Linked DNA regions of Homo sapiens. The protein of the gene in region 1 purifies or fractionates together with the protein of each later gene. This does not show direct contact. Each region holds a gene or a part of one and is shown on either strand. Other genes may lie near its edges.

Region 1 (3,823 bases):
CATAGCTCAGAGAGAGCCTTCCTGTCCAGCTCCAGCTTTCAGCTTCAGGGACTTTGCTTTACCACAGCTGATTCTCAGAGACTATGCTGCTGACTAACACAATGATGATACAATGAAGAATCTCAACATTCAGATAGATAATATAGTGGAGTGGTCATGTCTCTTTCAGACCCGAGTTAAATGTCATTTTGACCATGCAATAATCATAACCTATCTAGTTAATAGGAGGCTCACCTCTTCAAAGGTTAGAAACCTGGATGATATGATGATGCTGCTGGGGAAAACTGAAAAAGAACTAGTTTCAACATATTGAGTTTTAAGGGGCAGATAGGAAATCTCTGTGAGGAAGTCCAGCAGTCAAATAAAAATATGGGCTAGAGTTTAGAAGATATCAGATTTGGAGAGTTTGGGGAATGATTTGCATAGAATATCTGGCTGGAAAGAATGAATGAGATCTTTGAAGCATATGTGAAAGCTACTAAAGGTGGATTCTTAGGATACACATGTGGGAGCTAGAAAGAAGAAGAAGGAAATGGAGAAATAACAGATAGGAGGGATTCCAGAAGGGCAGAGTTTCAGGAGAGTCAAGGAATAGAATATTTCAAGGAAGGGAGTGAGTCAAAAGTATCAAATGGTGCATAAGGGTTAAAGAGAATGAGAACTGAGAAAAAGTTCATCCCTTTAGTCCTTGGAGAAATGTAAGGCAGTAGTTATAGGCATAGAAAACATTATTTGTCTTCCAGGAATAACAGGTGATCTGGTTTGGATAGAACAAAGGTCATTTTGAAAAGTAGTTGAAAATAAGTAGGTTTGGCTGATGAGGTTGTACTCCAGGCAATGGTGGACTATTTTCTCATTCTCTTGCACAAAAAGTTATTATTAAGTCAGTGACCAATACTTCAGATTAATCTTGGGTGGGTATTAGAATAACTTGGTTGGTGGGGGTGGCTAGATGATGTGGAGAAAGGAGTTTACTGCCATGGTTTAGGTGAGAGGTAAGAAGGGAAGCAGCAGCAGGTAAGTACCACATCTCTAGAGTGCCCAACCATCTTGTTAATCTCTCACCAAACCCATCTTTCTTCTCAGGTGAGGATGCTCCCACTGTCACACAGCTGGAGTGCTGTGCCTCTGTGGAGTCCTCCATTCCAGCAGACTCTTCTGACCCAGCATTCCGTTTTTGGGGACTTCAAAAGTTTTAACAGGCCTTCTTCCAGACTCTCAGTAAAATAGAATCTTGTTTGCCATCTAGAACAAGAGATGAGTAATCGGAGTGGGCCAGTAGTACACTTATTTTTCAGGGGATATATATCGATATTTCTGCAACAGCTACCATGGAAGTAATTAGGCTCCAATGACACCATATGCCCACGCCAGTTTGTGAACTAAAGATATCATCCCTGGCATTTCCGTGCCATAACTTTGACTCTCAACCAGCCACTGTTAACTTCCCTCTCAGTCCTAGGTTGAAATCATCCTTGTTTTTAGATGTTATCTTGAAGCCTCTCTTAGTGCCAAATGCTAGACTAAGGTAACTTCTGGCTGGCCCTGATGAAGCTCTTACACCTCTTGTTCCTTGCCCATGTCAGTCCCTCTGGAGTCCCTGGGTGAGGAAGGTACTTACTACCAAACTCTCACATTCTGACCTGAGCTTCAGGTCATTCTTTACTGACTTTGCTGGTTCCCCTGTCCTCTGCCCTTGGTCGTATGATGCAGCTCTGTCTTTCATCCTTGGGGTGGGGAATAGGAGGAGGATGGCCCTTGTCTCTCTAGGCCTCTGGGTTTCAGATGGTCCTTTATCAGCCTGCACTTTTCTTTGTCCTTTCTAAGGTTTCCAGTCCTCAGGAGGCCTGCTTTCTTCCTGATCCTTCTTGTCATGTAGCATATTCTCCAGCCAGTTACAAACCCTACAGTTCAGCAGTGTTTCAGAGGAAAGACCTACCTTCAGCCTCTTAGGTGCTTCTTGGGCTGTCCTAGGAATTTCTTCATCAGGGCATGTGGGTGTTGGCTGCTGGGGGAATTGAGGGAAGAGGAATAAACTGATGAACAAAGGATAGCAGAGATGAGAAATGCAGGAGTAGATGGGGGCATCAGGAATAGCTGACTGGTAATATGGGGATGATAGTTGGGGGTAGGGAGTGGAAGGGGAGAGGAATGGGAATTGACCTTTTCCTTCATCTGACCATCTTTGTAATTCTCACCATGAACCTTCCCTATGACCCCTAAACCAATTGCCCCCTTCTGGTCTATAGGATGTGTCCAGGTTCCAGCAGGTTGAAAGACTTGAGAGTGGCCGGGGGAAATGTCCTTTTGAGCCAGCTCAGCGGTCAGCAGCTGTAATGGCTGGTGAGTGGGGAGAGACAAGAACCTGTAACTTCTTGCTAATTGCCTCCTTCCCCACCCTTGCTGTTAGAATTTCTGTGTTCTTTCTTACCTTGGAATGTCTATTATTCTCATGTCTCTTTTTAGCCTTTCCTGTTCTTCCCTGAGTGCCTGTGTAACCACCTGCTTTTCCCCACCTAGTATGATATCCCCAGGATTCTCTCCACAGAATGTGTCCTCTGCACCTCTAGTGTAATGTTTCCTCTCTTAACCTCATTTTCTTTTCTCATAGTGTTTTTATTCCTGTTAATAAGTGGAATATACTACAATGCATATTGTAATAAATTTGGAAAAAGTATAAAGAAGAACATGAAGAAAACTTCTAGAACAGCACTTTCCAAAAGAACTTTATGTAATGATGGAAATGTTCTACATCTGCACTGTCCAATACAGTAGCCACTAGCTATTGTGGCTATAGAGCCCTTGAAATGTGACTAGTGTGACTGAAGGAAGGAATTTTAAATAGTATTTAATTTTACGTAAATAGGCCTGTGTGTCTAGTGGTACCGTATTAGTGTAATTCTAAAATATCTCTACTTAGAAAATTATTGCTAATATTTTAGGATATTTCCTAATACCCTGTATTCGTCCATTTGTGTTGCTATAAAGAAATACCTGAGACAGGGTAATTTATAAAGAAAAGAAGTTTATTTGGCTCATGGTTCTGGATGCTGGACATGAAGCATAGTGCTAGTATCTCCCTCTGGTGAGGTCCTTAGGAAGCGTACAGTCATGGCAGAGGGTGAAGGGGAGCCAGTGTGTCACATAGTGAGAGAGGGGGCAAGAGAGAGAGGGAGGAGGTGCTTTTTTAAACAGATCTTTTGTGAACTCAGAGTGAGAGCTCACTCATTACTGCCAGGACAGCACCAAGCCATTCATGAAACATCTGCCTGCATGACCCAAACACCTCACACTAGGTCCACCTCCAACATTGGAGGTCACATATCAATGTGAGTTTTAGAGGGGACAAAACATCCAAGCCATATCATATCCTAAATGGATATTAATGTGTGTGCACACCCATGTACATTCATGCACATACATTTGCTGCCAGTCCTTTGTTGCTCAGGGGAGTCAGTAATGACTATTAAATAAATTCCTGCTAGTACTTCTTTTGAACAAGCTGCCTGTGATTCCTCAAGTGTGAAATGATTCTATCACAAACCTAAACCTCTTCTGGAGAATGACTGTCTAATTTATTAGCAGCCACACAGCAAATTTTTTTTGTGCCACATAGCCTGAATTTTAGGTCAGACCACCCAACATGCACCTTCCAAATTCAGTGAAAAGCCATTTTCTTGTGGTAGTGTAAAGCAGGTTAATGGAAATTTTATGAGCATGTGCACAGTATAAAACTTTTAAATGTCATGCTACATGGATGTAATTTTGAATTTTGTCATGTAATTTTATATCACAGGCATTTCTATATAATTTAAAAATTCAT
Region 2 (3,823 bases), on another chromosome or scaffold:
GTAAGCATAGCTAAGCCATCACTATGATAGCACTCAGGTCATTCTTTCCTCAAGAGCTAGACAAAGTAAAAGATTCTTTCTGTGGACTAGTATTTTTCTAACCTTAATCATGGTGACAAAAATGTAAATCGGAGTTTAAAGCAAAATAGCATGATAGTTAAGAGCAGTTAAGACTGGACCTTTAGAGATTGAAGTCCAAGCTTCTTGCTACCTGTTTATCTGGCCCATTGATTCTCAACCCTGGCTGCATATTAGAATCTCCTGAGATGCTTTTTTAAAAAAAAATACCAATGCTGATACCACAATAGTGTTTCTGATTTAATAAATCTGGGATTAGGTCCAGGGATCAGTAACTAGTATAAGCCCACCAGGTGATTCTAATGTATAGCTGATTAAGAATGACCGCTGTAATCTTTCAGTTTCCTCTTCTGCAAAATGAAGATAGTAATAACATTTGAGAACTAAATGATATAATAAATGAAAAATTTAAGTTGTGCCTGGAAAATGGCAAGAGCTCCACTGCTTTTAAATAGTATTATCCTACGGTGCTTGTGAAGATTTTTTAAAAGGATTTTATTTTCTCATATTCAGTTGACAGAATTGGAATTAAAATTACTGTAATTCTTAATCATAGATCACCAGACCATGCAGTTTAGTCAAGGCTGTGCTGTTTTTTCTCCCAGAAATCTGGAAAATACTATCAGTTCACTATTTTTATCAGTATACCATTCTGCAAAGATGAAATGTGATTGCAAAAGTGCTGCCAAAGTAATTGAATGAAGAAAATTACATATTTGAATCTTCTACTTCAAAAATGAAAAACTGAAGTTTCCCGTTGGCTTTTAAAATGTTATGTCTGTCTAACAGGAAAAGACAATCAGCATCAAGGTTCTTACAGTGAGGGGGCTCAGATGAATGGCATTCAGCCAGAAGAAATTGGTAGATTGCGAGAAGAGATAGAAGAATTAAAACGTAATCAGGAACTTTTACAAAGCCAGCTGACTGAAAAGGACTCTATGATTGAAAATATGGTAAAGTAAATGTTTAAGAAGTTAAAATAAGAGTTCAAGAGTGGTTCTCATTATCCTGCCTTTTTTTTTTTTCCTTGGATCTCTTAAGCCAGAATATCATATGTTAAGATTTTACAGGATGGGCCAGGCACAGTGGCTTACGCCTGTAATCCTAGCACTTTGGGAGGCTGAGGTGGGCGGATCACCTGAGGTCAGGAGTTCAAGACTAGCCTGGCCAATATGGCGAAACCCTGTCTCTACTAAAAATACAAAAATTAGCCGGGCATGGTGGCAGGCACCTGTAGTCCCAGCTACGCAGGAGGCTGAGGCAGGAGAATCTCTTAAACCCAGGAGGTAGAGGTTGCAGTGAGCCGAGATCACCCCACTTCACCTCATTGCCTGTGCGACAGAGGGAGACTTTCCATCTAAAAAAAAAAAAAAAAAGATTTTACAGGATGAGCTTTAGAGTCAAACTGTTTAAACTTCAATGCTTCCTGGCTCATTGAATTTAAGCAATTTAGTTAACCTCTTTAAACTTGTTTCCTGATCTATAAAATGGTAGTGGTAATGTCTAGTTCATTGTTGTGAGATTTAATTTACTCTTCTAATAGATGGAAATTATTTAATAAATGTTTGCTTTTATGCTCTTTCTCCATATGAACGCAGGTAAATGCTTAGATTTAATAAATTGCTCGGTAAAATAAAAATTTTATTTTTTTTTCTTTAGAGACAGAGTCTCGCTCTGTTAGCCCAGTCTGGAGCGCAGTGGCACAATCTCGGCTCACTGCAACCTCCACCTCCCAGGTTCTAGCAGTTCTCCTGCCTCAGCCTCCCGAGTAGCTGGGATTATAGGTGCACGCTGCCACGTCCGGCTAATTTTTTGTATTTTAGTAGAGATAGGGTTTCACCGTGTTGCCCAAGCTGATCTTGCATTCCTGAGCTCAAGCAATCCACTGGCCTTGGCCTCCCAAGGATTACAGGCATGAGCCACCGCACCCAGCCTACAAATGGATTTTTAGCCATGAAAAAGTTGTAGACAATATGTGCTGTGTTGGAATTTTATCTTGGGCATAAAAATTAAAAGGTTGGTGTGAATTTTTTGGTAAGCACATATGATATAGTTTATATGTGTACAGTTCTGTTTTTTTTTCTCATCTCTTTAGACTGAATATATTTTATAGTTTATTTTTGTGCTATTTGCAGAAATCTTCCCAAACATCTGGCACAAATGAACAGTCTTCAGCAATAGTTTCAGCTAGAGATTCTGAACAAGTTGCAGAATTAAAACAGGTAATTTTCCACTTTGATCCAATTCTACTTTGTCATGTTTTAATTATAATAGAATAACAGCCCTATAGTTTCACAAATCTAGAACTATATTAGCAGATGTAAGTAAAATTTAAGTTAAGACAGCCATTTGAAAATCCAGAAGCTGTTTCTATTTATATGGTAATAGTACTTTGCTTTTTATTGTGTTTTTATTTTTCAGAGGTATTCCTTTTAAAAAATCTCAGCATCTCACCCATGTTATTTATAGATTATCAGTGAACTAACAAGGAAAAATTTAAATTTATAACTTGCAAATATGAAAATGTAAAATCTTATGCCTAATTTTAATATACTATGATAATTGCTTGACTAAATGTATGGGGTTTTTAAACTGTTTTGTCTAGAAAATATAGAATTTTAGAATTGGAAAAGAGAAGAAAGGTAAACTTACCTATATCTCAATTAAATGACTCCAGCTAAAAAGCAAAATAAACTTTTTCTGTGGTAATTTATAACATCTAGAAAAGCAAGTTAAACTTTTTTCTACTTGCTTATAGTATTTATAAATTCCTGTTAAACTAGATCATACAGATTTACCTTTATCCAATGAAAAAATTTAAATGTATTGTTCAAGAAAAGAATCAAAAGAGAGAAATGAACTCTGTATACTTACAATTAAATAATGTAGCAATTGGAAGAAAACTCTAGAGTATATTATCCCTAAACAGGTTCTGGGGTTGTTTTTCTTTCCTCCTCTCTTTTCTTCTCTCTCTTTTCTTCTTTCCCTCCTTTCTTTCTTATTATAAAAGAAATGCATACTTTTTTTTTTTTAATCCAAGCAATACTAAAAAATGACCATCCTCACTAACCTAGGACTAACTGTCTTCCTTCTCTCTCCACTAAGCAACTGGCCCTAGTCCACTGACATGGCTGCTTTGAAAGAGAAATGACTGAACATAGAGAAATTTTGTCTTATTTTGATAATGTCCATGTACCTCAGAGTAGATTCTAAATATCTGACCTCTTTTTAAAAAAAGAATCACTTATCATTTGAGGATTTTCAGGTCTCCAATATTTGTTCACAATGTTTTATTTGTGTGGGAAGATTAATATGCTCTTTTGGTTTTATTAAGTGTACCTATACTAGAACTGTATTAAAATTAAAGGGAATTAAGTTACTAATATATAGCCTTAGTTTGTAAATTCTAAGTAAAAATAAGCCATTTAATTATCTTTCCCAGTGAAACTTTAATTAGATATTTTTATAAAAAGAGAATTGCCTTTTAGTTTTTTTACTTTCTCCAGTTTATTTACTTTTATAAACTTTAGATTGTTAAAATATATGTATTTTTTAAGTGACAGTTTTGTTTTTTATAATATATAGTAAAGTACTATATATAGAAAACTGTAACTCATTTTAATAACTAAACAAAATAAATTAGAAAAGCCACAAATGTACATGATAGAAATTTTAAAGAGAACCAAAAGAAAAGAGCCTTTTACTTGCCATTGTCCCACCACTTACTCAGTGTCTCCAGACATTA

What was found.
Region 2: the proteins of SEMA4F (region 1) and USO1 purify together in Homo sapiens (affinity purification with mass spectrometry; 2 studies listed by BioGRID and IntAct, with this or other methods). This does not show direct contact.

Annotation. Positions count from the first base shown.
Region 1 is NC_000002.12:74,660,483-74,664,305, forward strand, and holds part of SEMA4F (semaphorin-4F isoform 1 precursor), read left to right. Parts: intron 1-2,249; coding exon 2,250-2,343; intron 2,344-3,823. UniProt on the Homo sapiens protein: Probable cell surface receptor that regulates oligodendroglial precursor cell migration. Might also regulate differentiation of oligodendroglial precursor cells. Has growth cone collapse activity against retinal ganglion-cell axons.
Region 2 is NC_000004.12:75,804,273-75,808,095, forward strand, and holds part of USO1 (general vesicular transport factor p115), read left to right. Parts: intron 1-867; coding exon 868-1,031; intron 1,032-2,213; coding exon 2,214-2,300; intron 2,301-3,823. UniProt on the Homo sapiens protein: General vesicular transport factor required for intercisternal transport in the Golgi stack; it is required for transcytotic fusion and/or subsequent binding of the vesicles to the target membrane.